4 linked regions of the Homo sapiens genome follow. The protein of the gene in region 1 interacts with the protein of each later gene in a biochemical or structural test. Each region holds a gene or a part of one and is shown on either strand. Other genes may lie near its edges.

Region 1 (8,753 bases):
ATGTCTGAGCACCCCAGGGCTCCTGATGAGGAGAAGACCATCTCTGGCAACATGTCCTGGTGTCTGTGCCAGGCCTAGTGATGCCTCCAAAGTTGATTGTTCAGCAAGCTGCCTGGTGGAGGGGCGTGTTGGGACACACGTTCCCAAGAAGAAAGGAACTGATTTTGCCATTTTAATCTTTTTTTTTTTTTTTTTTTGAGACAGAGTCCGCTCTGTCGCCAGGCTGGAGTGCAGTGGCATGATCTCGGATCACCACAACCTCTGCCTCCTGGGTTCAAGCAATTCTCCTGCCTCAGCCTTCCAAGTAGCTGGGACTACAGGTGCACGCTGCCACGCCCGGCTAATTTTTTTTTTTTTTTAGTAGAGACGGGGTTTCACCATGTTGCCCGGGCTGGTCTCAAACTCCTGAGCTCAGGCAAACCGCCCGCCTCAGCCTCCCAAAGTGCTAGGATTACAGGCATGAGCCACGGCGCCTGGCCTGCCATTTTAATGTTTTACCCGATTAATAGTGTTTAAATATAGTAAGGAGGTACTTTAAATACGATGTTACTGTTTGCCATTGTCTTGTGGCTTTTGAAAATCCCCAAATTTATAAAACTACCTATAAAGTGTACCATTGTCATATTTGAATTGCCCATTTCCAGTCCCCATGTGCATTACTGTATGATGAACGTGTACGGACCCACAAAGCTCCATTGAGATACAGGTGCCAAATGGTCTACTGGGCTATTCAGCTAGAAGAACTGCAAAAATCACAAACTGGTCTTGTGGACTTAAAGATCACTCTTGATGAATCATTACATCTTGCTGAATCATTACTTCATGTGTGAAACGTGCAGGTTCCAAGGGTCTCTGTTGTCTTCACAGGGTGCAGTGAACTTGCACATGGAAGAAGAGGTTGAAGACTTCTTATTGAAGAAGCCCATTGTACCTACTGATGGCAAGCGTGTCATTGTTGTGTTTCACTGCGAGTTTTCTTCTGAGAGAGGTCCCCGCATGTGAGTGCTGCACGGAACTGGGTTCTGGGGCACAGGCTCCATGATGCTTTTGTGGGACATGGTGGTTTGTGGCTTGCACTTGGAGCATATTTTAGCATATCAAGCAACCTCTGGCACATAACAAGCCATTTTCATATGTAATTTTATCCTGAGGTGAACTTTGGCTCTTCCAGTCTCCCCGACTGTCCTTAGTCTGATCTGTGGGGCTACTGTTCTCATGTGACCTCCTTCAAGTACAAAGTGACCGTTCCTTATGCAAATGCCAGAAAAGTGTGAAGTTCTCATTCTGTAAAACCTCATATGATATGATGCTTTGAAACACTTGATATTATTACCAATTTCAGGGTGAAAAGAAAAAAGGGGGCCAAAGAGCTGCCCATCAGTCATCTGTGTCCATTCTAAAAGGATTGCAAGCCTGCTGTTTGTCAGGCACTGACAATAAAAATGTAACTACAGTAAAACACAGTACAGTAAAAATACCACAGCGAGCAGGACCAACAAGGACCCTACTGCAGCAGAGATCCAAGTGGGGATCCGTATAAATGCTAGGAGGACAGGCAGAGAGGTAGGACAGAGAGTGCAGCTTAACTAGGATGGTCCAAGGGAGACTTCTGCAGGACCACGTTCTTATGCCACCTTTTTATTTTGAACCAATTTATTTTAAAAAACATTTTTAAATTAAAAAATTTCAATTTTTTTTTTTTGACGGAGTTTTGCTCTTGTTGCCCAGGCTGGAGTGCAGTGGCACAATCTCTTCTCACTGCAACCTCTGCCTCCCAGGTTCAAGCAGTTCTCCTGCCTCAGCCTCCCAAGTAGCTGGGATTACAGGCATGCGCCATCACGCCCGGCTAATTTTGTATTTTTAGTAGAGGCAGGGTTTCTACATGTTGGTCAGGCTGGTCTTGAACTCCCGACCTTAGGTGATCCGCCTGCCTCAGCCTCCCAAAGTAGTGGGATTACAGGCGTGAGCCACTGCACCTGGCTTTTTCTTTCTTTCTTTCTTTCTTTTTTTTTTTTTTTTTTGAGGCGGAGGCACACTGTTTTCACCCAGACTGGAATGCAGTGGCATGATCTCGGCTCACTGCAACCTCCACCTCCTGGGTTCAAGCGATTCTCCTGCCTCAGCCTCCTGAGTAGCTGGGATAACAGGCGTGCACCACCACACCCGGCTAATTTTTGTATTTGTAGTAGAGATGGGGGTTTCACCATGTTGGCCGGGCTGGTCTTGAACTCCTGACCTCAGGTGATCCACCCGCCTTGACCTCCCAAAGTGCTGGGATTACAGGTGTGAGCCACCACGCCCAGCAGAAATTTCAAATTTTGAGATGGGGTCTTAATATATTGGCCAGGTTGGTCTCAAACTCCTGGCCTCAAGCAATCCTCTCTCCTTGGCCTCCAAAGTGCTAGGATTGCAGGCATGAGCCACTGTGCCCACCCCTTTGAACCTTTTTTTTTTTTTGAGACGGAGTCTCGCTCTGTCACCCAGGCTGGAGTGCAGTGGCACAATCTCGACTTACTGCAAGCTCCGCCTCCTGGGTTCATGCCATTCTCCTGCCTCAGCCTCCCGAGTAGCTGGGACTACAGGTGCCCACCATCACGCCTGGCTAATTTTTTTGTATTTTTAGTAGAGACAGGGTTTCACCATTTTAGCCAGGATGGTCTCCATCTCCTGACCTTGCGATCTGCCCGTCTCGGCCTCCCAAAGTGCTTGGATTACAGGCGTGAGCCACTGCGCCTGACCTGAACCATTTTAAAGCTCAAGAAGAGGTGAGGTTATGGCTGGGCACAGTGGCACCTGTAATCCCAACACTTTGGGAGGCCGAGGCAGGAGGATCACTTGCTCGGGAGTTTCAGACCAGACCAACCTGGGTAACACAGTGGGACCACACCTCTACAAAAAATAGGAGGTGGGAGGATCGTTTGAGCCCAGCAGGTCGAGGCTGTGGTGAGCCATGATCATGCCACTGTACTCCAGCCTAGGTGACAGAGTGAGATTCTGTCTCTCTCTCACACACACACACACACACACACACACACACAAAGGTTATACTTGCACACACTTCACCTGATTTTATTAATTTTTAACATTTTGTCACATTTGTATGTACATGCTCTACACACAGGCAACTACAGTACAACTTGACACTTTTGACTGTCATCTCATAAGTCCTTCAAACATCTGTCTCCAAAGGATGCTCATTCATGAATGGAATTATTCACTCAGCAGTTTTTTTGTTTGTTTGTTTGAGATGTAGTCTTGCTCTGCCACCCAGACTGGAGTGCAGTGGTGCGATCTCGGATCACTGCAACCTCCACCTCCCGGGTTCAAGCAATTCTCCTGCCTCAGGCTCCCAAGTAGCTGGGACTACGGGTGCATGCCACCATGCCAAGCTAATGTTTGTATTTTTAGTAGAGACGGGGTTTTGCTACATTGGCCAGGCTGGTCTCGAACTCCTGACCTCAAGTGATCTACCCGCCTCAGCCTCCCAAAGTGCTGGGATTATAGGCCTGAAACAAACTAATCTGGACACACATACACACACATGTAAATTGTTTTTAAACCCACAAAAGATGCTGCTCTCTTTTTTTTTTATTTTTGAGTCAGGGTCAGTCTCTGTTGTCCAGGCTGGAGTACAGTGGCAGGAGCACAGCTCACTGTAGCCTCTGCCTCCCAGGCTCAAGTGATTCTCCCACCTCAGCCTCCCAGGAAGCTAGGACCACAAACATGCATCACCATGCCTGGCTAATTTTTGTATTTTTTATAGAGACAGGGTCTCACTGTGTTGCCCAGGCTGGTCTCAAACTCCTGGGCTCAGGCAATCCTGGCCTCCCAAAGTGCTTGGATTACAGGTGTGAGCCGCCATGCCCAGCCCAAAAGATGCTATTCTCTTAATCTCTCATTTCCCCATCTTCCTCTTTAACACCTCTAATATAAAGGACATTATTATACCATATTGAAACTTCACCTAGATATACAGAAAACGCCCCATCTCTGTATTCTGTATTTGCAAGCTGCATGTTTATATCACCATCTACAGATACCCCTTACACTTCGTTCCCCACTTGAGTTTCGCCATCACTGGCTTTCTGTTGTTCCACTGGGGAAAGATTTGGGATTCACAGGTGAACTCTTTTTTTTTTTTTTTTTTTTTTTTGAGTTGGAATCTCGCCCTTTCGCCCAGGCTGGAATGCAGTGGCACAATCTCGGCTCACTGCAGCCTCCTCCTCCCGGGTTCAAGCATTTCTCTGCCTCAGCCTCCCAAGTAGCTGGGATTACAGGCACCTGCCACCACGCCCAGCTAATTTTTTGTAGTTTTAGTAGACACAGGGTTTCACTATCTTGGCCAGGCTGGTCTCGAACTCCTGACCTCGTGATCCACCGCCTCAGCCTCCCAAAGTGCTGGAATTACAGGTGTGAGCCACCGCGCCCAGCCAAACTCCTTTTAACCACAGGCAAATGGTTTAAGCTACGTGCTGCAGAGGAAGCTGCTGCCCATCCCTCATGAGCAGCTAACAAAGGCCCCAAACCACTGAGCTTCAAGAGAAAATCAGCAGATACTCTTGGCTCTTGTGTACCAGATACCTTTCTAGATACTGAGGGAGAAGAGCAGTGAACAAAACAGACCAAAAAATCTCTGCCTTCATGGAACTTACATTTCGGAGTGGACAGGAGATCGAGACCAGCCTGGCCAACATGGTGAAATCCCGTCTCTACTAAAAATACAAAAATTAGCCAGGCGTGGTGGCGGACACCTGTAATCCCAGCTACTTTGGAGGCTGAGGCAGGAGCATCCCTTGAACCCAGGAGGCAGAGGTTGCAGTGAGCCGAGATCGCGCCAGTGCACTCCAGCCTGGGCGACAGAGTGAGACTCCATCTCAAAAAAAAAAAAAAAAAGGTGACTGGGTGCGGTGGCTAACTCCTGTAATCCCAACACTTTGGGAGGCCAAGGCAGGTGGATCACAAGGTCAAGAGGTCGAGACCATCCTGGCCAACATGGTGAAGCCCCATCTCTACTAAACATACAAAAATCAGCTGGGCGGTGGCACGCGCCTGTAGTCCCAGCTATTTGGGAGGCTGAGGCAGGAGAATTGCTTGAACCCGGGAGACGGAGATTGCAGTGAGCCTGAGGTCACGCCCTTGCACTCCAGCCTGGTGACAGAGTGAGATTCTGTCTCAGAAAAAAGAAGGTGCTTCAGAGGAAAATAAGGCCAGTGGTGGAGCTCCCAGGCAGGCTGGAGGAACAGTAGTGGGGCTGCAGGGGCTGGCGTGGGGTGAACAAGGGGCAGAGCAGCAGTAGGGGCCTGTAGAGCTGTAGGCCTCTGAAGGACTTGGGGCCTCGGGCTTTTTCACCAAGGGCGAGGCAGTAAGCAGCCATTGGCTGGATATTGAAGACCATTCAGTCCAAGTAGAGGATAGAAACAGGGCCCCGAGGCAGGAGCAAGTTCAGCCTCTTTAAAAGCCACAGAAAGAAACAAGCCCACTTATGTAGAAGGAGGTGAGTGAGGGAGCCTGGCTGAAGAGAAGGCTGGGGTGGAGAAAGCAAGGGGAAGCTGGCTCATATAGTGAAAACTTGCCACAAACTGTGGTGGTGAAGGTGCTGGGCAGGACTCAGATGCTAGGATTGTTGGAGAAAGGAAAATTGGGGAAGAGACCATCTACTGGCACTGGCTGTGAGTGCTGCTCATGTGGCCAGGAACTTGCAACTCAGCACTGATTGTTTCTAAGAATAAATGTCAAGTTGGGAAGATGTGTATAAGGGGGACTTAGACCACAACTGCTGCTTTGACTGCGTTGCCTTGTTGCTGTGCTGGAAAAGCTAACCCTGCTTTGGCCTTCCTTCCCCTGACTAGGTGCCGGTATGTGAGAGAGAGAGATCGCCTGGGTAATGAATACCCCAAACTCCACTACCCTGAGCTGTATGTCCTGAAGGGGGGATACAAGGAGTTCTTTATGAAATGCCAGGTAAGACTGGGGTTGTGGAGAGCATCTCTCCTCCCCTGCCCCCAGTGGTAGACTAATGGATCTGTCTGGTGGTCATGACTTTCTTTCCAGGGGTCGGGGGACAAGGTGGGTATCTGCTGAACCCAAAGAAAGCCCCTGTAGAACTGGCTCCCTAGGTCTGCCTGGCCGCTTTCAGCCTTGTAGCCCTAGGCAGAGAGGAAACCAGGTTGTGGGTGTGAGGCAGGTGTACCCTAACCTTATTCTCTCCTGTCCCCTCAGTCTTACTGTGAGCCCCCTAGCTACCGGCCCATGCACCACGAGGACTTTAAAGAAGACCTGAAGAAGTTCCGCACCAAGAGCCGGACCTGGGCAGGGGAGAAGAGCAAGAGGGAGATGTACAGTCGTCTGAAGAAGCTCTGAGGGCGGCAGGACCAGCCAGCAGCAGCCCAAGCTTCCCTCCATCCCCCTTTACCCTCTTTGCTGCAGAGAAACTTAAGCAAAGGGGACAGCTGTGTGACATTTGGAGAGGGGGCCTGGGACTTCCATGCCTTAAACCTACCTCCCACACTCCCAAGGTTGGAGCCCAGGGCATCTTGCTGGCTACGCCTCTTCTGTCCCTGTTAGACGTCCTCCGTCCATATCAGAACTGTGCCACAATGCAGTTCTGAGCACCGTGTCAAGCTGCTCTGAGCCACAGTGGGATGAACCAGCCGGGGCCTTATCGGGCTCCAGCCATCTCATGAGGGGAGAGGAGACGGAGGGGAGTAGAGAAGTTACACAGAAATGCTGCTGGCCAAATAGCAAAGACAACCTGGGAAGGAAAGGTCTTTGTGGGATAATCCATATGTTTAATTTATTCAACTTCATCAATCACTTTATTTTATTTTTTTTTCTAACTCCTGGAGACTTATTTTACTGCTTCATTAGGTTGAAATACTGCCATTCTAGGTAGGGTTTTATTATCCCAGGGACTACCTCGGCTTTTAATTTAAAAAAAAAAAAGAAGTGGGTAAGAAAATGCAAACCTGTTATAAGTTATCGGACAGAAAGCTAGGTGCTCTGTCACCCCCAGGAGGCGCTGTGGTACTGGGGCTGCTGCTATTTAAGCCAAGAACTGAGGTCCTGGTGAGAGCGTTGGACCCAGGCTTGGCTGCCTGACATAAGCTAAATCTCCCAGACCCACCACTGGCTACCGATATCTATTTGGTGGGAGGTGTGGCCCTGTTCTTCCTCACCCCAGTTCCATGACATTGGCTGGTATAGGAGCCACAGTCAGGAAAGCACTTGAGGCAGCATCTGTTGGGCCACCCCCGGCTCAGTGCTGGAATGTTGCAGTGTAGGTTTCCCAGGGAAGGGGGGTGGGGGTAGGTGGGCTCCACAGGATGGGGGAGGAGCATGTCCACTGAGTATCTTCCTTATGTTGCTGTGATATTGATAGCTTTTATTTTCTAATTTTTAAAAAATGGTCATATTATGAGTCAAAGAGTATCAAATCAGTGTTGGATGGACCACCCAAGGGTGAGGAGAGGGGCTGGAAGCCCTGGGCATTAGGAGAAGGGAGTGGGTGCTGGCATGGACATGACTGGATAGAATTTTCTCAGGAGGGAGCTTGGTGGATTTTGAAGGTAAAACTTTCTGGGTTTATCATGTTTTAATTTTAGAGACAGGGAGTGATGAATCATCACCGGTTGTCCCCTTATCTAACTCCATAAAAGTGGGAATTTCAAAAGAACACCTCATCCAAGGAGCTGGGGCAGACTTCATTGATTCTAGAGAGACCTGTTTCAGTGCCTACTCATCCCTGCCCTCTGGTGCCAGCCTCCTTACCATCACGGCTTCACTGAGGTGTAGGTGGGTTTTTCTTAAACAGGAGACAGTCTCTCCCCTCTTACCTCAACTTCTTGGGGTGGGAATCAGTGATACTGGAGATGGCTAGTTGCTGTGTTACGGGTTTGAGTTACATTTGGCTATAAAACAATCTTGTTGGGAAAAATGTGGGGGAGAGGACTTCTTCCTACACGCGCATTGAGACAGATTCCAACTGGTTAATGATATTGTTTGTAAGAAAGAGATTCTGTTGGTTGACTGCCTAAAGAGAAAGGTGGGATGGCCTTCAGATTATACCAGCTTAGCTAGCATTACTAACCAACTGTTGGAAGCTCTGAAAATAAAAGATCTTGAACCCATGCTCTCTGCCTAGTTCTTGATGGATTTAAGGAGAATTACATTTCCCTTTAAGGTCCTGGGACCACATTAACTAAAATTAGTGTTTGGGATGGCCACATTTCCTCAAGAAGCTCTGACTCCAAAAACTTGTGGTTCAGATTGATTTGCAAGATGAAATGGGTGCATAAAAAGTGTGCCTGAGGCCAGCCGCAGTGGCTCATGCTTGTAATCCCCGCATTTTGGGAGGCCGAGGCAGGCAGATCACTTGAGGCCAGGAGGTCAAGGCTGCAGTGCCCACACATAATGTGATGCTGGGGGCTACTGGGGACAAAATATATTGGGCTGAAGCACAGAGGGACGCCCAGAATAGAAAACACATGGTCCTTTAGGTATGGGTTGGAAAACCAGGGGTTCAGGCATATTTGATTATATTATATATACATATATTTTTCTGAGACAGTCTCACTGTTGCCCAGGCTGGAGTTGCAGTGGTGTGATCTCGGCTTACTCCAGCTTCGACCTTCCAGGCTCAAGCAATCCTCCCACCTCAGCCTCCCAAAGTGCTGGGATTACAGATGTGAGCCACCATGCTTTTTAAAGTTTACTTTGAGCAAGTAATATTTCCCTGGATTGCTGCAAAGGTCAGC
Region 2 (8,753 bases), on another chromosome or scaffold:
CGTTACACTCTTCTGATTTTCGTCCTTCTCACTGGTCGCTCTTTTCAGTCTCTTGATGGTTTTTTTTCATCTGCTCAGCCTCCTACTATTGGAGTTCTCCAGGGCTGAATCTATGGATCTCCTTTGTTTTCTTCTCCACACTCACTCCATTAGTGATATTACTTGGTTTCATGGCTCTAAATAAAACTATATGTTGATAGTCACATTTATATCAACCTAGACCTTTCCTCTGAATTCCAAACTTACATGTCTTAACTGCCTTCTGAAATTTCACTTGAATGTTAAGAGGCATCTCACACTTGATGAATTCCAAACTGAGTTACTGATCTTTTCCTTTCAAACCCATTCCTTTTCAAAGTCTTTCCCATGTTGGTTAATGGCAACTGCATTATTCTTATTATGCAGATCAGAAACTTTGGAATCATCCTTCATTTTTCTCATTCTCTTTTACTTCACATCCAGTACACCAGCTAATTCTGTTAACCTCTATCTTTAAAAAAATCTTAGAATCTGATTACCTTTTTTTTTTTTACCTCTACTGTTACCCTATCATTCCAAATTACCATGATATCTTTCCAAAATGTTCTGATTTAAAAGTGAATTAGAATATATCACTATTCTACCCAAATCCTCCAATGCTTTAGTTCTCACGTGTAGTGTAAGCTAAAATCAGTTCATGACCTGTGAGTTCTTACACAATTTTGTTCCTTACATTACCTCTCCAACCTCAGTTCTGCTTTGCTCCCCCTTGGTCATATTGTTGTTCTTCTTATTGTTCTCCAAGTGCTCTAGGCACACTTCTACCTCACTGTTTTTGTAGTGACTGTTCCTATGTCTGAAAATGCTTTTTCCCATGGGACTTATTTGCATGTCTTATTCTCTTACTTTCTTTGGATATTGACTTCAGTGTCATCTTTCCAATAAGCCTTTCCTGGCCATGCTATTTAAAATGGTATCCTCTTCCCTCTAACACATTTCTTAAATTTTTAAAATTTTTACTCTCTTGTGGACATACGCAATCCAACACGTTTCTTCATTTTATTTTCCTTCAGTGTACTTACCACCATTTAGCTTACTGATTTTTAACTGTATTTGTATTTATTTTATGTTATTTTGTCTCTCCTCAGTAGAATGTAGGATTTAAAAGGTCAAGAGTTTTTTTTCTATTTTGCTCACTGCTGAATACCTGATACCTAGAATAATGCCTGGCACAGAGTAGACCTAATAAAATATCTGAATGAATGGATTAATAAATAAAAAGCAGGTTTAAAAAAAAACTTGAGCATGTTTAAAAAGAAACAAACTTAAGCATGTTTAAGTGGTTTGGGTACGGATCCTGTAGAGAGGAAGAGGCTGACAGTCTAAGAGAAAGGAAATAAATAACAGAGGATCAAGATCCCTAAGGAGGTAGAAGGGTATGGGCTCCAGAGCACAAGTAGAGAGATGAACATTTGATGGGAGAATGGAAGGGATGAAAAGATGTATAATAATACAAATAACTTAGCTTTGGTAGGGATAAGTTGATGTAGTTTCTGTCTAATGGCTTTATTTTTTCTCTGAAATGGGAGGTGGTAGTATAGGTACTGGATGGTAGTCTTGGGAATTACAGAAAAGTGTAGTTTTGAAATGATCCTTGTGGAGAAAAGGAAAGGAAACTAGAGAAACAAATATTATCTGGCAATATTGAGGTTTAGCTAGGGATTGTAACCATAAATTTACAGTGGCGTCATTTTCCATATAATATTCTTCTTTATAAAGCTTTTCCAAGGAATCAAAGAATGTTGGCTATAGCAGATTCATAATGTTTATTGCTATTATCATAAATTATTTTTTATTTTAAAAAGTTCTAGTCCTTTAGCCAGGTCTGTTGTCTTCATAGAACATTGTTCTGTTACCCATAAAAGATGCCATTAAGACTGTGGCCTGGGCCGGGCGCAGTGGCTCACGCCTGTAATCCCAGCACTTTGGGAGGCCGAGGCGGGTGGATCACGAGGTCAGGAGATCAACACCATCCTGGCTAACATGGTGAAACCCCATCTCTCCTAAAAATACAAAAAAAAAAAAAAAAAAAATTAGCTGGGCGTGGTGGCGGGTGCCTGTAGTCCCAGCTACTCAGGGGGCTGAGGCAGGAGAATGGCGTGAACCCTGGAGACAGAGCTTGTAGTGAGCCAAGATCGCGCCACTGCACTCCAGCCTGGGTGACAGAGCGAGACTCCGTCTCAAAAAAAGAAAAAAAAAAAGATTGTGGTCTGAGCATACTCCACACTTTGAACATGTCTACAGATCATACTTAGGTATTGTAAAATACCTAATTTGACAAATGAGTTTTAGTAATTTTATAACTTGGCCATATTTTTTATAAAATCATATAGGAAGACTTTGTTTTATATCTTACAAAAATTTTGTGTTAAATAAATAGATTTAGACATAGTTTTACTTCTTCAAGTTGCCAGTTGGGTTAATTTAAAAACATACTTGCATAGAAGACTTGAAAGCATTTGTATTTGTTTTCTTTTTTAGGGGCAAAAAGGCCCCGAGTCACTTCAGGTGGTGTGTCAGAGTCTCCCAGTGGATTTTCTAAGCACATTCAATCCAATTTGGACTTCTCTCCAGTAAACAGTGCTTCTAGGTAAGACTGATAAAGATTGAGTAGTTTTTGATTGTAGTATTCCCCATGAAGAATAATACATGTATGTGTTTTTTCATAATAATCGACATTAACATAATACTGTAAGCATGAGAACTTGTGTGTGATATAAGAAAGGCCTGATAGATTTTATTTTATTAAATGTATGTTTCTTTCTGTCTTAATGCCTCAGTGAAGAAAATGTGAAGTACTCCAGTTCTCAGCCAGAACCCCGCACAGGTCTTTCCTTATGGGATACCAGCCCCTCATACATTGATAAATTGGTACAAGGGATCAGCTTTTCCCAGCCCACATGTCCTGATCATATGCTTTTGAATAGTCAGTTACTTGGCACCCCAGGATCCTCACAGGTGAGGGAATTTAATTTTTTAAAAGTAATGGCAGCTCTTTATTTTTTATTGTCTTAAAGTCCTTTTTTAATGTGTAAATCTTAGATATATAACTTTTAAATCACATGTATTCTTTTTTGGTCAAGGAAGAAAGAGAGGAGGGAGGCCTTCATGCAAAATAATTTTAAGTCAGACTAAATAGCTATGATATTACTGTCTTTAGTCCTAATGGATTTATTCATTTGTCTTCTGTTTGACATGTAGAACCCCTGGCAGCGGTTGGTCAAAAGAATGACACGATTCTTTACCAAATTGGATGCAGACAAATCTTATCAATGCCTGAAAGAGACTTGTGAGAAGTTGGGCTATCAATGGAAGAAAAGTTGTATGAATCAGGTGTGTTTCATTGATTTTCATTATACCTTTTCCTGAAGAAGAATTTAAATATTTGAGTAAAAGCTATCATTAGTATATTTTTTAAATATAGGCTGTGGCTCACACCTGTAATCCCAGCTTTTTGGGAGGCTGGGGTGGGCGGATCACCTGAGGTCAGGGGTTCGAGACCAGCCTGGCCAACATGGTAAGACCCTGTCTCTACTAAAAGCACAAAAATTAGCCGGCCTGGTGGTGCATGGCTGTAATCCCAGCTTCTCGGGAGGCTGAGGCACGAGAATTGCTTGAACCTGGAAGACGGAAGTTGCAGTGAGCCGAGATCCTGCCAGTGCACTCCTGCGTGGCCAACAGAGTGAGACTGTCTCAAAGAAAACCAAACAAACATAAAAATACAAAGTAATTAGTTAATTTGAAAAAGAAACTATTTAAGTAAAATGTTCTTTACTTTAAGAAATAATACTTTTTTTTATTTTGTTTTATTTTTTAATTTTTAATTTTTAGCCACTGTGCCTGGCCTAAGAAATAATATTTCTTAAAAGACCTTTTTATTGTTATTAAAAATAGTAGGGAGCTGGAATCATTATCTTTGTAAAAACTATGTATACTTAAACTGTAGACAATAACAGTTGACTGCCTACTATGAAAGACGAATACATTAGCAATCCCACACTTTCTCCCATCTCCCTTGATTGCACCCGTCAATTTTTATTGTTTATATTATTAGAGCATAGTTATAACATTGGTATTCTAAACTGTCTTTAAGGCTTTTCAAAAAAAATGTTAATGTCAATGAAAGACAAATAGGGTAGCTGTTTTTTACTCAAGGAGACTAAAGAGGCCTGATAACTAAGTGCAAGTGCAATGCATGATCTTTCACTAGATCATGTATTTGAAAAAAACTATAACGGACATTATTGGAACAATTGGGGAAATTTGAATATGGACTGTATATTAATTAGGTAATGTTTTTGTATCAGCGTCAGATTTCTTGGGTGTGATAATACTGTGGTTTGTAGGAGAATGCCCTTGTTCAAAGGAGAACAAGTGTCAAAGCAAAGTTGAAGTGAAGTGATATTTTCATTCAGCTTAAAATTTAAAAAAATAAAGGGCAAACAACTACATAAAGGCCAATAAACACACACATATCTGGTAGATAAGGCCAATGAAGAGTATATGGTTATTTATTATACTCTTTTTTCAGTTTTTCTGTAGATTCGAGTTTTCAAAATTAAAAATTGGGGGAACTGTTACTGTGTAGAAATCTGAGGTCAGCCTGATAGTCTTCTCACTCACATAGGTGATTCACTTTCTTTCAGGTAGACTCAGAGATAAAATTTGCATAACATAAGAATCATCACTTTAACCATTTTAAAATGTAAAATGCAGTGCTTTTTAGTATATTCACAAGGTTGTGCAACCATCGCCCCTAATTCCAGAACATTGCATCACCACGGGGAAAAAAAAACAAAACACCTCTGTACCACCTAGAATCACTCTTTATTCCTTTCTTGCTCCATTCCCAGACAACCTCGAATCTACTTTCTGTCTTTAGGGATTGCCTTTTTGGACATTTTATATAAATGGAATCATATAACATGTAGTCCTTTGGGTCTGTCTGCTTTCATTTAGCACGTTTTCAAGGTTCATAGCATCTATCAGTACTTTATTCCTTTTTATGGCTGAATAATATTCTGTTGTGTGTATGTATTACATTTCGTTTATCCATTCATCCACTCATGGACATTTGGGTTGTTTCTACTTTTTCATCATTATGAATAATACTGCTGTGAACAATCTTGTACCAGTTTTTGTGTGACCATATGTTTTCAATTTCTTAGATATATATGGAGGAATAGAATTGTTGGAGCATATGGTAACTCTTCATTTAACTTTTTGAGAAACTGTGAAATGATTTTTCCAAAGCACCTGTACCATTTTACGTTCCCATCAGTAATGTAAGAGGGTTCCAATTTCTCTACAACCTTGCCAACACTTACTGCCTCCCCTTTTTGCTATGGCCATCCTAGTGTGTATGAAGTCTTATCTCATTTTGCTTTTGATTTTCATCTCTCTAAAGACTAATGATCTTGAGCATATTCTTATATGCTTATTGGCCATTTCTTTATAACAGTATCCGGATATTTTGTCCATGCTTTAACTGGCTTGTTTTTATTGTTGAGTTGTTAGAGTTCTTTTACATTCTGGACACTAGAACCTTGTCAGGTACCTGATTTGCAAATATTTTATCCCATTCTGTGGGAGAAAATTCCCCCATTCTTTTGTTTTCTTGTTAGTGTCGTTTGATGTACTCAAGTTTTAGATTTTGATGAATTCCAGTGGATCTATAATTTCTCTTTTGTTGCCTATGCTTTTAGTGTCAAATTTAAGAAACTGTTGCCTGATGTAAGATTGTAAAGATTTATACTTTATGCTTTCTTTTAGGAGTCCCAGCCTCCTAAGTAGCGGGGACTACAGTCTTAAAGTTTAGCTCTTATATTTAGGTCTTTGTCCATTTTGAGTTAATATTTGTATATAGTATGATGTAGGGTGCAAATTCAAATGTTTGTATGTGAATATTCAGATTCCAGCACCATTTGTTGAAGATATGTTTTACTATTAGATGGTCTTGGCACCTTTGTTGAAAATAAATAGGTCATAGATGTATGGGTTTATTTCTGGAATCTCAATTCTTTTTTTTTCCTTTTTTTTTTCTTCCCCTGTGGACTCAATTCTTTTATTTCATGGATCTATATGTCTGTGCTATGCCGTTACCACACTATGTTGATTACTGTAGCTTTATAGTGAATTTTGACATTAGAAAATATGAGTTGTCCAAGTTTGTTCTTTTTTTCAAGGTATTTTGGTTATTTGTGGCCCCTTGTTTTTCTGTCTTTTAGGATTATCTTATTTCTGCAAGAAAAAAATTTGGAATTTTAAAAGAGATTACATTGGGGAGTATTTCCATTTTAGTATATATTGAGTATTCTTTATTCAAGGTGCTTGGGACCAAAAGTTTTGTGGATTTTACATTTGTTTGGATTTTGGAATATTTGCATATGCATATTGAGATAACTTACAGATGGGACTCAAGTTGAAACATGAATAATTTTATTTATGCTTCATATATACCTGATACAGATAGCCTGAAGGTAATTTTATACAATGTTTTAAATAATTTTGTGCATGAAACAAAGTTTGTACATTGAACTATCAGAAAGCAAACCTGTCAGGTATGAAATTTTCAGTTTGTCACATGATGTCAGCACCTGAAAAGTTTTGGAGTTTGGAACATTTTGGATTTCAGATTTGAGATTAAGGATGCTAAACCTCTAATAGTAACTCTTCTAATCCAATAACATGGGGCCTTTTTTTTCCCATTTTTTTAGGGTCTTTAATTTCTTTCAAGAATATTTTGTAGTTTTCAGTGTTCAAGTCTTGCACTTCCTAGGTTAAATGTAATCCTGTTTATTCTTTTTTTTTTTATCCTGATGCTGATGTAAATGGAATTTTTTAAAATTTTATTTTCAAATTGTTCATTGCTATATGCAAATGAATTTTGTATATTGATCTTGTATCCTGAAAATTTGCTGAATTCATTAACTCCAGTAGTTTTTTTGACAAATTCTTTAGGTTTTTTAATATATTAAGATTACATTATTTGGCAGGGCGTGGTGGCTCACGCCTGTAATCCCAGCACTTTGGGAGGCCGTTGCGGGTGGATCATGAGGTCAAGCGTTTGAGACCTGCCTGGCCCACATAGTGAAACCCCGTCTCTACTAAAAATACAAAAAATTAGCTGGGCGTGGTTGCGGGCACCGGTAATCCCAGCTACTCGGGAGGCTGAGGCCGGAGAATCACTTGAACCTGGGAGGCGGAGGTTGCAGTGAGCCGAGATGACGCCACTGCACTCCAGCCTGGGCGACAGATCAAGACTCCGTCTCAAAAAAAAAAAAATTACATTGTTTATCAATAGAGATACAGGAAATTGTTTTACTTTTTTTTTTTTTTTTAACCCAGATGCCTTTTAATTCTTTTTGTTTAGTTGTCCTGGCTAGGACTTCCAACATTATGTTGAACAGAAATAGAGTCTTTGTCTTGTTCTTGATCTTAGGGTTAAGTTTCGAGTCTTTCAGCATTAAGTATGATGTTAGCTGTGGGGTTTTTGTTTTTATGGTGAAAGAGTATTGGATTTTGTCAAATGTTTTCTCCGTCTATTGAGATAATCATGTGGATTTTTTTTCCCTTTATTAATATAGCTTGACCTCCTGTGCCCAAGTGATCCTCTCATCTCAGCCTCCTAAGTAGCTGGGACTACAGGTGTACACTATCATACCCAGCTAACTTTTTAAAAATGTTTTTGTAGAGATGCAGTCTCTGTGTTTACCAGGCTGGCCTTGACCTTCTGGGCTCAAGTGATCCTCCTGAGTAGTGGGTACTACAGGTGTGCACCACCATGCCCAGCTAAATTGACAGTTTTCATCAGTCTGTTTATTTTGTCTAATGTTAGTATATCCACATCAGCTCACCAGCTATCTTGTGTATTTTCCTTTTTTTAGATGGAGTCTCACTATGTTGCCTAGGCTAGACTGTAGTGGCTACTTAAAGGCACGATCATAGTGCAATGCAGCCTCAAATTCCTGGGCTCAAGTGACCCTCCTGCCTTGGCCTCCCAAGTAGGTGGGACTGCAGGCATGTACCACCATACCCAGCTACCAGCTCTCTTTTGGTTATTGTTTCCATGGTCTATTTTTTTTTTCCTTTTCCTTTTAACCTATTTGTGTCTTTGAATCTAAAGTGCCTTAGCCAGGTGTCATGGCTGACACCTGTAATTCCAGCACTTTAGGAGGCTGAGGTGGGTAGATCACTTGAGGCCAGGAGTTTGAGACCAGCCTGGCCAACATGGTGAAACCCCATCTCTACTAAAAATATTTTAAAAATTAGTTGGGCGTTGTGGTGTGCACCTGTAATGCCAGCTATTGGGGAGGCTTTAGGTGGGAGGATAGTCTGAGCCATTGGAGATCAAGGCTGCAGTGAGTCGTGATCTGATTGCATGACTGCTCTCCAGCCTGGGTGACAGAGCAAGACTGTCTCAAAAAAAAAAAAAAATCGCTTCTTAGCCTTTTGGCTAAGATCAAGTGTAGTATCTATTCCTATCAGTTTAAGTGCCTTAATTTCTCTTCCACTTTTTGGACAGGTAGTTTTGCTGGATATAGAATTCTTATTAGCTTTTGTCTTTCAGCACTTTGATTATGCCACTACTGCCTTCTAGCCTTTGTGGTTTCTGATGAGAAATCAGCTGTTAATCTTACTGAGGATCTCTTTTATGTGAGACGTTGCTGCTCTCTTGCTGCTTTTATGTTTCTCTGTTGACCACAGTTTGACTA
Region 3 (9,408 bases), on another chromosome or scaffold:
GCACACCCAGCTAATTTTTGTATTTTTTTGTAGAGATGGGGTTTTGCCATGTTGTCCAGGCTGGTCTCGAACTCCTGGACTCAAGCCATCCTCCTGCCTTGTCTTCCAAAAGTGCTGGGATTACAAGCCTGAGCCACCGCACCTGGCATTTTTTTTTTTTTTTAAAGCAGAGACCACCAGCCTGGCCAACCTGGTGAAACCCCGTCTCTACTAAAAATACAAAAATTAGCCGGGTGTGGTAGCGGGCGCCTGTAATCCCAACTACTCGGGAGGCTGAAGCAGGAGAATCACTTGAACCTGGGAGGCGGAGGTTGCAGGGAGCCGAGCTCGCGCCATTGCTCTCCAGCCTGGGTGACGGAGCAAGACTCTGTCCCCCCCCCAAAAAAAAAAAAAAAAAAGCAGAGACCATTAACATTGACTAAAGAACAAAATAGACAACTGGGGTCACTATAAATGAAAGTGGAAACTCGGGCTGTAAGTGCTACCTCGAAGACACAGCACATGGTGGCGACCACAACACATTGGCCGCCTTCAGAGGAAGCCCAAGCACTTTCAGTTAGAAGAGCAAAGCCAGATAAAGCTCTTCCCCACCCAATGTACAAAGAATTGGGCATGCAAATTATCCATGACAGCTCCTGCCAACAGCTGTGCGAGCAAGGCTGCTTCCTTTCAGTTCTAGTACCATGTGCGGGTGGCATTTCCTTAACTCAAAAAGGGTCACATTACAACCGCTGTAAGTTGTTCTTCATTCAGGAAGAATGAATTCTAGTCTTGAAGGCATAATGCTGGGTGCCACCCTCTACAGCCAGATGGCTGGCACATCTGAGAGCAGGCCTTTGGACATAGATGAGTCCAGCAGCAGTTCCCAAACTAGGTGAACCATCAGCAGACAAATGGTTTCCAAAGTTGGCCTTTTTAGGGACCAGTGGATGAGGTAGAATAATTAAGTCTATGTCCTTGAGTGTACACCAAGTTTCAAAGCAAGATCTGTCTGACTTTATTTAGGAAAGAATGAGATAACAATAAGAGACCCACGGGATTCCTAACCACTCCAACTCCTCATACCACTTTTTTCCTTACATAGGATTATTTTCTGAAAAGTAACAGTCCAGGATTCCACTTCAATAGAAAGATTGAGTCTTGTGCAAAAAAATTAAACAACAAAATGGACGTGTTAAGTAGATCTTAGATAAAAGGGTATTCTTTTCATTAAGAACAGCCTAAGATGAAAATTAAAAAGCTTCCATGTGGTCTCGATGAAGCAGTTACACAAGAGTTTGGCACAATGGCTCCAAGTAGCTCAAGACTGTCGTACTGGGGGGAATTATGATAACTCCAGAGAAAAATTCTGTATGTGAGCAGGGAAAAAGGTTCTGTTGTACCCCCAAGTTCTAGTTTCATGAAGCTCCACAAAGAAATAACAAAGATACTGCTCCATACATAGACAGCTAATGTTTAAGCTATCTACTCTACAAAACGTATAGAAATCTGTCGCCATTAATCTCTGGATAACCACGAAAATGCCTTCTAGTGGGAAATGGTATGGCTATTCCGGCAGCACAGCTATCCACACTGTGGCCAGGGGACAGAGCCACAATCCGTCCCAGGAGGCACCCTCGTCACTGCTCAGGCTATCCTTGAGAACAGACATGCTTCTAAAACTCCAAGAATGCAACAGGGACGGCCCTGCTTCATCTTCAGCTGGAAGTTTCTTTTCTATTCAAAACACAGCTGGGAAAATAAACAGTCCTGAATTTCACAAAGTCAGAATTCATTTTATAATACCTAAAAAATCAACTTGCTTGATTTGAATGTACTTTAAGGGAAGAAAAAAAAAACTGGGGATATGCCGTCTCATTTCCGTCTCTGAAATGATTTCTTTGAATGAAAAAGGAAATCAGCAACCCTTTCTTCAATAGTCAGTGGACCCTCCTCAGAAATGCTTATTTCGGGGGACCTTACATGCAGTGACAACTGCTATTTAGAACACGGCGCACTGCGTTGAAACCCTTCACGCTTCCAGATGAACTACCCTGGCTGCTGCTCTGCAAAGTGAGGGGCTTCTCTGCTAACCTAGCTGGGATCCCTGCACTCAGGTCGAACACTGTTTCTGTTCAGCGTTTATCTGTGATAGAGTCAGAAGGCCTGACCAGCTAGTTTAGAGATAGGCTGCTTCCCCCACTGGAGCCATAACTACAGTCTCCAGCCATTTCTGAAAGTAAAGAGATAGTACAAGCTTTTTCTGCAAGAAACTTCTGATATTATAATGATTATCACACTGCATGCAGGAAATTTGGCAGGAACTCCTTAAGGAGAGAAAAGAAAAGCAGTCAAAAAAAAATGTATTGAGACACCACCTATCATTACACTGAATGTTCCACTGATACTCTTGCTGAGGTCAGGCTGAGCTGGGGATCAATGCAGGTAATTGCTGGAGGGGCTATAAGAACTTCCAGGGCCAGAAAGAGGAGAAGAATTTGAAATCTGACCTACAGAAGACGGAGGAGGTCCTTAAACACCATGACAAGAAAAATAGGTGTAGATAGGGGGAAAGTTGTTGCTTATAAACACCCAGGAACCCTCCCCCAGTTCACCAGCTTTTACAGACAAGGCCGAGAGCCCAACTTTGCCCCTGGATGGCACAGGACTCTGGGTTACTTTCTTCCTCTAACTGAGTCTCAGTTTCCTCCTGGGCAGAAGGGGAGGACTGAATACTGTGATGTCCATTCTGGTTCTTCCAGGCTAGGCACATATCTGTAATCTCAGACGGTGCCAGTCAGGAACACCAAGCTTCCTGGAATCCCAGGACTGGCAGAGGCCAGTGCCCACTGACAGGTACAGTGCTGGGCCATATGGGCTGTGGCTGCATTAGAGAAGTTCACTCTCACCAGAGTGTCTCCAGCAAGAGACAAGACAGCATGAAACCCCATGTGACCCAGGGGGAGAAGGACCTCCACAGAGGCCCAACCCCGGGCGGACCTACCTGGCTCCCACACTGGTCCCTCGCCGTCCTGTCGATTTTGGCCATTTCTTCATCTGGATCCTGCAAAAACTAACATGAAGCCACCCCCATGACCCCAAGGAAACACACCAAACAAGACAAAAACAGAGAGAAGAAGAGAAAGCTGATCAGGTTATGAGCTCCGTTCCTGCCCAAGGGACCCCCGCCCCCGTAGGCAGAGCCAAGTCGGGTACCCAGGTGAGATGGGGGGGATGCTCCCCAACCTGTCTCTTTTGTACTCACAACGGTCACGTTTGCCTTCCTCTTCCTGGAGCGAGCCGAGAACTCCGCGCCGCCGTCCTCCTTCATGGTGTCCCGCTCCTTCGCATCCCTGTGGACCCGGGTGGCACCGGGCCGGGTGAGCACCCGCGGCCGCCCCTCCCCCACGCCACCCGTCCCGTCCCGTCCCGTCCCGTCCGGCCCCGCGGCGCGGGCACTCACCGCTCCCTGCGCTCCCTCGGCATGATGGGGCTGCTCCGGCCTGAGGCCTGCGGGGCGGCGCGGGGTGAGGCGGCGGCGGGGTCAGGCCGCGGGCCCAGTACCCCTTCCCCCTTTGCGCGCGGGCGGCCGGGCGAGCCAGGAAGATGGCCGATGGCGGGGTGGCCTGTCACCCGCGACCCGGGCACCCGCCGACCCCCGACCCGGGGTCCCGCCGCCCCCGCCGCCCTCACCGGCCCGTCGCCTCCCGGGGCCCGGGCTGCCTCAGTGTCCCCTCCACCCCACCCCGCCGCGCTCTCAGCACCCTCCCGGGCGCCCCGCGACGCCGCCCGGGGACCCGCGACCCGGCCGCACCCCGCCCCCACCCAGCTCCCCGGCGCGGTCTGGGCCCCAGGAGTCCCTGTCCGCAGCCCGCGGCAGTAGACTCACCAGGGTCTTGTCCGCGGCGGACGGCGCGCTCCAGTCCCGGCAGGCGGCGGCGGCGACGGCAGTGGCGGCGGCGGCGCCGGGAGTCGGCGGGCCGAGCGCGCGGCGGTGGCGGGATCCGCGCCTGCCCCCTACACCGCGCTGGCGGCCGCGCCGGCTGCTCCTGCGCCCGGCTCAGAGCGGGACATTTAAAATCCCTGCGCGCGGAACCGGCCCCGGCCCGCCCTCGCACCGCCCCGCCGCGGCTCCCAGCCCCTCAGCGGCCGCGCGGGACCCAGAGCCCGTCCCGCCCCGTCCCTCGCCCCGCCCCCGGACCCGCCCCTCCACGGCGCCGGCCCGCGAGGCGCAGGGACGGGGAATCAGGGGCGGGGCCGGCGGACAGGGCGGGGCCAAGTGACAGGGCCTGCGCGCCGAGGGCCGGGCGCGGGGCGCGGGGCGCGGGACGCGGGGCGGGGCGGCGGGCGGGACGCGGGAGAAGTCTGGCGCGCGGCGGCGAGGGGCGGGCCGCGGGCGCCGGGGGCGGGGCCGAGCGGCGCTGGAGCGGCAAAAAGCCGCGTGGCTGGCGCGGGTGGAATGTAAACACGGCGGGCGGCGCGGGTTCGGGCCCCGGCAGGGCTGAGCCAAGGGGATGTGTGGGGGGCCTACCCGAGGAGCACCGCCCGCCGTTCCTCCGCGCGCGCTGTCCCGCCAGGCACGCCCTCCCCGCCCCCGAGACGCCGAGTTCCGGGCCCTGAGTCCTGGGCGGGGACATCCCCAAGGTCACCGCGCCTGTGCCTTGGCCTAGAACCAAGGCTTCAGGCCGCGGGGTCTGGGGCTCCCTGGGGGCCGGCTGCTATTCCTGGCCGCCTGTCCATTCATCCGTCAGTGCATTGGGTCGTTCATTCATTCATTCAAGGAATCTGTGAGTTCCTTCCATGCGCCCCTTCCATATGCGCCCCTCCCCCGCAAGCCCTTCCTGGCTCTCTGAAGACCTTTCTGACTCTGGGATTCCCTTGCACCCCATCTCTCACTTAAAGCCTTCCAGTTGAGGCCGGGCGCGGTGGCTCACGCCTTTAATCCCAGCATTGTGGGAGGCCGAGACGGCTGATCCCTTGGGGTGTTCGAGACCAGCCTGGGTAACAGTGAGACCCCCATTTCTACAGAAAAAGAAACAAAAAGCCTTCCAGTTGTTTCGCATAAGGGTCAAATCCACACTCCGTGTCCTAGGCTACAGGCTCCACAGGACCTGACCCTGATCCCCCACCCTCAGACCTCAGGCCTCCTCTCCACAGCTCCTCTGTCCTTTCTCCCTCAAGACTTGTATTTTTTATTGTGGCGGGGGGTGGGGGGTGGCAGGTAGGGATAGGGTCTTGCTATGTTGCTCAGGCTGGTCTCAAACCCATGAGCTCAAGCGATCCTCCCGCCTTGGCCTCCCAAAGTGCTGGGAGCCCAGCCCCTACACAGTCTTGGTGCCTCTCTGTTTCTTGTCTCTCTCCCCACCTTGCCCATCTTGCTCACTGCTGTATCTGTCAGTTCTTGGCATAGTGCCTGGACCAAGGGAGACACTTAAATTGTTTCTGAATGAACATTTGAAAGACAGGCACTGGCCAAGCCCTTGCAGGGCTTACCGGCTAATGAGAGAGACAGGTAAGGAACAGTCATCACCTCAGAGTACCCTCTGTACTCAGCTTCAGGAAGATGTGCGTAAAAGAAGGCTCTGGAATGCTCCCAGGGCCCTTCTTAAGCTAAAGTCTCAGTCCTGTCCCTCACCCTCCCCTAGTGACCGTTTTCTTGAAGTTAGAGCCAGGGTCTTATCAAAGAGGCTCACAAATTCATGATTCCCCCAGGTGCTCTGAGGCCAAGGCTGCTGGGCTACTTGCTCAGCAGGGACCCAGGCACCTGAACCCCCCATCCTGTGCCCGTTAGGAATCACCAGTAACAGGTATCATAAACAGTGTTTCCAAAATGGCAGCACTGGGCTAAGTCCTTCAAAGTATCATCTCAATTAAACTTCACAATAATCCTATTCATGTTGATGCCACAATTATCCTGTTTCACAGATGGCAACTATCTACTCCCAAGGATCATTGTGAAGATTGAGATAATGTAGCTGACTCCTGTACAGTACCTGGCACACAGTAAATGCTCACTAAATGAGTTATTATAATGATGGTAGACAAGACAGTTTTCCTTAGTCATTACAGCAATGTATACACCCACCAGCAAAGATAGAGCCCAAATCCTCCACATCCTAGCTGACATGTTCATCAAGAATAGAATGGATACATAAATGTTGTTATATTAATTCAATGGAATACCACACAGCAATAAAAAGGACAAACCAAGGAATCATGCAGCAACATGAGAATTTCAGAGACAACATGTTGAGCCCAAGAAGCCAGACACACTTATTTGAAGTTTCCATTTATTTGAAGTTTAAGAAAAGACAGCAGTCACCGTAACAGTATTTACCCCTAGGGTGAGGAGTAATGACCGGGAGGAGACCAGGGGAAACTTCTAGGGGCTAGACATGTATGCTTTGATCTGAGTGGTGGTTTCATGACTGTATACATACATAAAAGCTCATTGATTGATACATACATAAAAGTTCACACCTAGGATTTGTGCACTTTACTGAATGTATCTTTTACTCAATAAAAATTAAATAATAATAATAATTATTATTTATTTTTTAGACAGAGTGTCGTCCAGACTAGAGTGCAATGACGCGATCTCAGCTCACTGTAACCTCTGCCTCCTGGGTTCAAGTGATTCTCCTACCTCAGTCTCCCGAGCGGCTGGGATTATAGGCATGCGCCACCTCGCCCAGCTAATTTTTGTATTTTTAGTAGAGACGGGGTTTCACCATGTTGGCCAGGATGGTCTCCATCTCTTGACCTCGTGATCCGCCCGCCTTGGCCTCCCAAAGTGCTGGGATTTCAGGAGTGAGCCACTGTGCCCGGCCTTATTATTATTGTTGTTATTATTATTATTATTTGAGACGGAGTTTAGCTCTTGTTGCCCAGGCTGGAGTGTGATGACGCTATCTCAGCTCACTGCAACCTCCGCCTCCCAGGTTCAATCGATTCTGCTGCCTGAGCCTCCCAAGTAGCTGAGATTATAGGCGCCTGCCACCACGCCCGGCTAATTTTTGTATTTTTAATAGAGACAGTGTTTCACTATGTTGGCCAGGCTGATCTCAAACTCCTGGCCTCAAGTGATTCTCCCTCCTTGGCCTCCCAAAGTGCTGGGATTACAGGTGTGAACCTCTGCGCCCAGCCAATAATTATTATTATTATTTTTTAATTCAAGACATAGCAAAGCAAGACACAATCCCTGCCCTCTTGGGAGCTTCCGGTGTGGAAGGGAGGCTGTCATGCATTTGCAGTGTAGCATGATAGGGCTGGGAAGGGAAGAGTCTTGGGGCTATGACTTCATGTGGAGAAGGATGTATCCAACCCATCCTTGGATGGCAAGAAGTTTGCATGAAGAAAATGGCATGTAAGCCAGAAGGATGAACACATTTAATAGGAACAATAGAAAAGTTGTGTCCAAGATGGCAGACACAGCCTATACAGCAGCTTGGAGTCTTCAGAAACCACTGATGTCTTTTGTTTTCATTTTTATTTTTTTTGAGACGGAATTTTGCTCTTTTTGCTCAGGCTGGAGTGCAATGGCGCGATCTCAGCTCACTGCAACTTCCGCCTCCTGGGTTCAAGCGATTCTCCTGCCTCAGCCTACCAAGTAGCTGGGATTACAGGCATGTGCCATCATGCCTGGCTAATTTTGTATTTTTAGTAAAGATGGAGTTTCACCATGTTGGCCAGGCTGGTCTCAAACTCCCGACCTCAGGTGATCCGCCCACCTGGGCCTCCCAAAGTACTGGGATTATAGGCATGAGCCACCGCACCCGGCCCAATGTCCGCCTTTCTAGGGCAGCTCACCTTTGGGTGTTTGGGTTCATTCCATTCTGTGCTTGCCTCAAGTCCAGAGCTCCCGAGCATTGGCCCAGCCTTGAGGGAGACTGTGGATTGCATCAGAGGTGGTGAACCAGCTGCTGTGTAGGGAGGGCAACACCTCCCCTTTGCTATGAGACTTTGGGAAGGTTCTCCAACCTCTCTGTGCTTTAATCTTCTCATCTGTAAAATGGGTATAATTCTAATTGTCCCAACGTCATGGGGTTGCGGTGAGGGGTAAATGTATTAATACCCCTCAAGTGTTTTCAACAGTATCTGGCACAAGGTAACTGCTCAATTTGTGTTGTTATTACTCATAAAGAGATTTGGGGGTTATTTGCTTAGCTTCCTATATGGTTCAGGCTCTGATGATGGAGGACGGGCACCAGGACATAAAGGTTAAGGAGAAGGAAGACCAAGGGATTGCAAGGGGGAAGTCCTTCCCAGATAGGATTCCTTAACATGGGATCCCTGGACAGCCTTTGGAGACCCAGGAGCCTGCCTACTGTTGGGCCCATGTGCATTTCCCCAGGCAGCTGGAGCCTAACTTCTACCAGGTCCTCAAAGGCGTCTTAGCGGACAATTAAAGAGCCCCGCTGCTAGCAAAGGTTGATCAGGGAAGGTGTGGGCTGTGGCTGGCAGTGGAGCTGGCTAAGGCCTTGCTGTGGGGCCAAGCTGGACATCTGTGGCCACCTGGATGAGCCAGTTATCTTGTGAGGCTACACATGGAAATACTAGAAGAGGAGGGGGCCACACTATACCAGTGTGAGCTGTGAAGTGGGAGCCGGGCAAGATGAACAGGACCAGGCTGTCAACCACAGAGTGTCTGCGGCCCAGCGCCAGGGAACGTGAGCATGGGAAAGCCCTGGAGGCTTGGCTCCTGTCCTCCCTGGGCGGGACAATCTGCCTGCACAGGCCCCCCAGCCAGCCAGGCAAGGGCCCAACCCATGCTCCCCAAGGCTTGGTTCCTGCTCAGAACCAGCGCACACTGCTGTGTAAAGCCACCAAGGTGGGAAGGATGAAAACCAGTGAAAGGGTGCTTCTGTCCCGGCCTAACCTCCTCTTACATTGGGGAGCAAGCCTAGCCATCGCTTCTTCAGATGGAGGCTGTGACCAATGAAAACTTCCAGGGAAAATTAAAATTGGCCTTTTAACTTAGTGTATGATAGGATAATGATGGCAGCTGACATTTTTGGATTCTGTATTAACTTCAGGGTTGTAAGGAGTAGAGACAGGGTGGGCAGTGGGCACAGTGGCTCACACCTGTAATCCTAGCACTTTGGGAGGCCGAAGTGGGAGGATCTTTTGAGCCCAGGAGTTTGACACCAGCCTGGGCTACAAAGCAAGACCCCCATCTCTACAAAAAAATAGAAAAATAAGCCAGGCATGGTGGTGCACGCCTGTAGTCCCAGCTACTCTGGAGGCGAAGGCAGGAGGATCACTGCAGGTCAAGGATGCAGTGAGCTGTGATCTCACCACTGCAGTCCATCCCGGGTGACACAGCAAGCCCCTGTCTCTGGAAAAAAAAAAAAAAAAAAAAAGGGCAGAGACTAATTTGAAGATGCTTGAAAGAGTGGGAGTGTGTGATGAGGTTGGGGAGGTGGGGGT
Region 4 (4,284 bases), on another chromosome or scaffold:
TAGATAGGCAATTGATAAAGGAAGTAATCAAGAAAAAGTACAGCTTAAGCTTTACTTTAACATTCTTTTGTAGGTTCAAGTAAATTTGATAGGTAAAATCTTAGACTTCACAGAAGGAAAAAGAAGGGAACAAATCTTTTAATATAGATCTCGTCCTCCCAGCCCCCTAGTTTGGTGCTTTATCATTTACTAGATAGGATTTTTTAAATATTAGCACCATGTCTATTCAATTTTGCTGAATAGGGTAATTATGAATCCACTGAAAGGGGAACGAAGACCCTGCATTTCTAGCCATGAGAAGTGCCTGTGGTTGTGAGGGGACAATGGAAGATGATCAGCAAATAGTTCTACAGAGGAAGAGCAAATTAGGCAGTTATACCTCTTCCCAGATGTATACCTTGGAGCTAACTATCTTTTAATCGGTTTTGTTTTGTTATCTCTATTATGGAGACAGGTCTTTGGGGGATTTTGTTTTGTTTGTTTTTATTTAGTATCTTCATAATAATCTAAGGATTATGTAAGATTCTGGCTTTTCTGAAATTAACACTAATGTCTTGCTGTTGGTCTAATAAAGTGCAATTATAGTCAATAAATACTGACTTCTCTTCTTCACTTCATCTTCCTATCCTAAAATCAGAGAGATCCTGGAAGATCCACTTAGTTTTAACATTCTGTCTAATTCAAGAACCCTGTCTATACATGCACACATTGCTTCCCTGTAGCTTCCATCACCCACTTCTATTTAATTCTTGGAGAAACACAAAGTAAGTCTGCTTTTCCTATAGTTTAGCCCTTCACACACTTGAAAATTGTTAACCATGATTGTGGCTTTTTCCTCCCTGTGAAAATGTTTTGCTTTATTAGTCTGTAATAATAATGCAGTAGTGCTTTCAAGAAGAGCATTGGGCTGCTGGGAATAGAGACTATCACTTTGCTTATTCTGAAAGTAGAGTGCCTTTTTAAAAAAGTTTCTCTTTTTTTTTTTTTTTTTTGAGAAAGGATCTCACCCTGTTGCCTAGGCTGGAGTGCAGTGTCATAATCATGGATCACTCCAGCCTCAACCTCCTGGATTCAAGCAGTCCTCCTGCCTCAGCCTCCTGAGTAGTTAGGACTGTAGGCACACACCACCCCGTACCTGGCCAATTTTGTTTTTGAAATTTTTTGTAGACGTGGGATCTTGCTATGTTGTCCAGGCTGTTGAACTCCTGGCCTCATGCGATCTTCTCATCTTGGCCTCCCTACGTGCTGAGATTACAGGCGTGAGCCACTGTGCCTGGCCAAATGCTTTTTAAATAAAAAGGAAGCTATAAAACCATGCTCCAGTGGTATATGTATGTATGTATGTATGTCATTTTGTAAGTGCATAGTGAAAGGTCTGCAAGGATGTACTTTGGGAAGGTGATGGTCTTTGGGGTTTTGAGAGAGAACTTCAGTCTTAGTCAAGATCTCCATTGTTTGAGGAATTTACTACTCTTGTAGTTAATTTTGATATAACAATACTACTTAGTGTAATTGCCTAATCTAGAAATAGTAACTTAATATGATTCTTCTTTTTCTAGCTTTGGACATCAGACAGTGCAGGAGAAGAATGTGATGCGGCAGAAGGGGCTGAAAACTAAATCCATACAGGGTGTCATCCTTCTTTCCTTCAAGAAACCTTTTTACACATCTCCATTCCTTATTCCACTTGGATTTCCTATAGCAAAGAAACCCATTCATGTGTATGGAATCAACTGTTTATAGTCTTTTCACACTGCAGCTTTGGGAAAACTTCATTCCTTGATTTGTGTTTGTCTTGGCCTTCCTGGTGTGCAGTACTGCTGTAGAAAAGTATTAATAGCTTCATTTCATATAAACATAAGTAACTCCCAAACACTTATGTAGAGGACTAAAAATGTATCTGGTATTTAAGTAATCTGAACCAGTTCTGCAAGTGACTGTGTTTTGTATTACTGTGAAAATAAGAAAATGTAGTTAATTACAATTTAAAGAGTATTCCACATAACTTCTTAATTTCTACATTCCCTCCCTTACTCTTCGGGGGTTTCCTTTCAGTAAGCAACTTTTCCATGCTCTTAATGTATTCCTTTTTAGTAGGAATCCGGAAGTATTAGATTGAATGGAAAAGCACTTGCCATCTCTGTCTAGGGGTCACAAATTGAAATGGCTCCTGTATCACATACGGAGGTCTTGTGTATCTGTGGCAACAGGGAGTTTCCTTATTCACTCTTTATTTGCTGCTGTTTAAGTTGCCAACCTCCCCTCCCAATAAAAATTCACTTACACCTCCTGCCTTTGTAGTTCTGGTATTCACTTTACTATGTGATAGAAGTAGCATGTTGCTGCCAGAATACAAGCATTGCTTTTGGCAAATTAAAGTGCATGTCATTTCTTAATACACTAGAAAGGGGAAATAAATTAAAGTACACAAGTCCAAGTCTAAAACTTTAGTACTTTTCCATGCAGATTTGTGCACATGTGAGAGGGTGTCCAGTTTGTCTAGTGATTGTTATTTAGAGAGTTGGACCACTATTGTGTGTTGCTAATCATTGACTGTAGTCCCAAAAAAGCCTTGTGAAAATGTTATGCCCTATGTAACAGCAGAGTAACATAAAATAAAAGTACATTTTATAAACCATTTACTATGGCTTTGTAACAATTGCATACCCATATTTTAAGGGACAGGTGAATTTACTACTTTCTAAAGTTTATTGATACTTCCCTTTTATGTAAAATGTAGTAGTGATACCTATATTTCCACATTGTGCATTGTGACACACTTGTCTAGGGATGCCTGGAAGTGTATAAAATTGGACTGCATTTCTTAGAGTGTTTTACTATAGATCAGTCTCATGGGCCATCTCTTCCTCAGATGTAAATGATATCTGGTTAAGTGTTATATGGAATAAAGTGGACATTTTAAAACTAGCAAAGTTAATTATGTGATTGTGAGTGCCTTGGCTGTTATTAGAATTGTGCTTCAGTGGATATTCAAAAGGAATGTAAGAGTTCAGACACAGATACTCCTCAACTTAAAATGGGGCTACACCCTGATAAACCCATTGCAAGTTGAAAATACGAAGTCAAAACTGCACTGAATACACCTGACCTAATGAACATTATAGCTTAACCTATCCTACATTAAATGTGCCCAGAACACTTAGCCCTACAGTTGGGCAAAATCAAAGAACATGAAGCCTACTTTATACTAAAGCGTTGGATCTCTCAGGTAATTTGTTGAACACTGAAAGTGAAAACCATTGATTGTATAGGTACTTGAAGTATGCTTTCTACTGAATGCCTGTCATTTCCACACCATTGTAAAGTCAAAAAATTAAGTTGGGGACTCTATGCTTCTGTTTGTAAACATTCAATCTTACTATTAGTGAGTTCAAAATAATTTTGGTTTTATAGTATCACAATAGCTATTATTTTACTAACCAATCTCAGATTAGTAAAATAACTGAGACTGAATGACTTGAGAACTGATTTTTAAGTCAGAAGATAATCTGAAAAAATAGCTATGTAGGATTCTTCTTGATCCTAAAATGTGAATATGAAACAAGGCTTCATTTATAGTTGTTTTCTTTTCTTTTCTTTTTTCCCTTTTTTTTTTTTTTTTTTTTTTTTGAGACAGAGTTTCACTCTGTTGCCCAGGCTAAGAGTGCAGTGGTGCGATCTTGGCTCACCACAACCTCCGCCTTCTGGGTTCAACAGATTCTCCTGCCTCAGCCTCCCGAGTAGCTGGGATTACAGGCACCCGCCACCACACCCGGCTAATTTTTTTTATTTTTAGTAGAGACGGGGTTTCACCATGTTGGCCAGGCTGGTCTTGAACTCCTGACCTCAGGTGATCCACCTGCCTGAGCTTCCCAAAATGCTAGGATTACAGGCATGAGCCACCACGCCCGACCTATACTTGTTTTCTAAGGGGAAATGAAAAGGCAGAATTCAGTAGGACTCTGGTATCCCAAAATTTAAATCAGGACACTACTTTTTAAATAAAAATCATAGTAAAAATAACATTTTGAATTGAGAAAAAATGATCATTTCTTAAGACCAGTAAAATGGTATGTGCTGAGTAATGAATTATGTTATCAAAGTGGCCTTAAAGAATAGATTATTTTCTAGCCAGGCGCGTTGGCTCATGCCTGTAATCCCAGCACTATGGGAGGCTGAGGCGGGCAGATCATTTGAGGTCAGGAGGTCAAGACCAGCCTGGCCAATATGGTGAAACCCTGTCTCTATTAAAAATACAAAAATTAGGCTGGGCACAGTGGCTCA

The links.
Region 2: of the proteins of CDC25A (region 1) and CHEK1, one has a biochemical effect on the other in vitro, tested with the Homo sapiens proteins (7 studies listed by BioGRID and IntAct, with this or other methods).
Region 3: the proteins of CDC25A (region 1) and CCNE1 form a complex in vitro, tested with the Homo sapiens proteins (2 studies listed by BioGRID).
Region 4: the proteins of CDC25A (region 1) and YWHAQ form a complex in vitro, tested with the Homo sapiens proteins (2 studies listed by BioGRID, with this or other methods).

The regions. Positions count from the first base shown.
Region 1 is NC_000003.12:48,156,552-48,165,304, reverse strand, and holds the end of CDC25A (M-phase inducer phosphatase 1), read left to right. Parts: intron 1-867; coding exon 868-998; intron 999-5,849; coding exon 5,850-5,961; intron 5,962-6,219; coding exon 6,220-6,360; 3' UTR 6,361-8,159; downstream 8,160-8,753. UniProt on the Homo sapiens protein: Tyrosine protein phosphatase which functions as a dosage-dependent inducer of mitotic progression. Directly dephosphorylates CDK1 and stimulates its kinase activity. Also dephosphorylates CDK2 in complex with cyclin-E, in vitro.
Region 2 is NC_000011.10:125,641,272-125,650,024, forward strand, and holds part of CHEK1 (serine/threonine-protein kinase Chk1), read left to right. Parts: intron 1-2,520; coding exon 2,521-2,629; intron 2,630-2,819; coding exon 2,820-2,997; intron 2,998-3,240; coding exon 3,241-3,372; intron 3,373-8,753. UniProt on the Homo sapiens protein: Serine/threonine-protein kinase which is required for checkpoint-mediated cell cycle arrest and activation of DNA repair in response to the presence of DNA damage or unreplicated DNA.
Region 3 is NC_000019.10:29,806,613-29,816,020, reverse strand, and holds the start of CCNE1 (G1/S-specific cyclin-E1), read right to left. Parts: upstream 4,031-9,408; 5' UTR 3,869-4,030; intron 3,490-3,868; 5' UTR 3,466-3,489; coding exon 3,443-3,465; intron 3,333-3,442; coding exon 3,245-3,332; intron 3,053-3,244; coding exon 2,984-3,052; intron 1-2,983. UniProt on the Homo sapiens protein: Essential for the control of the cell cycle at the G1/S (start) transition.
Region 4 is NC_000002.12:9,582,621-9,586,904, reverse strand, and holds the end of YWHAQ (14-3-3 protein theta), read left to right. Parts: intron 1-1,559; coding exon 1,560-1,619; 3' UTR 1,620-2,938; downstream 2,939-4,284. UniProt on the Homo sapiens protein: Adapter protein implicated in the regulation of a large spectrum of both general and specialized signaling pathways. Binds to a large number of partners, usually by recognition of a phosphoserine or phosphothreonine motif.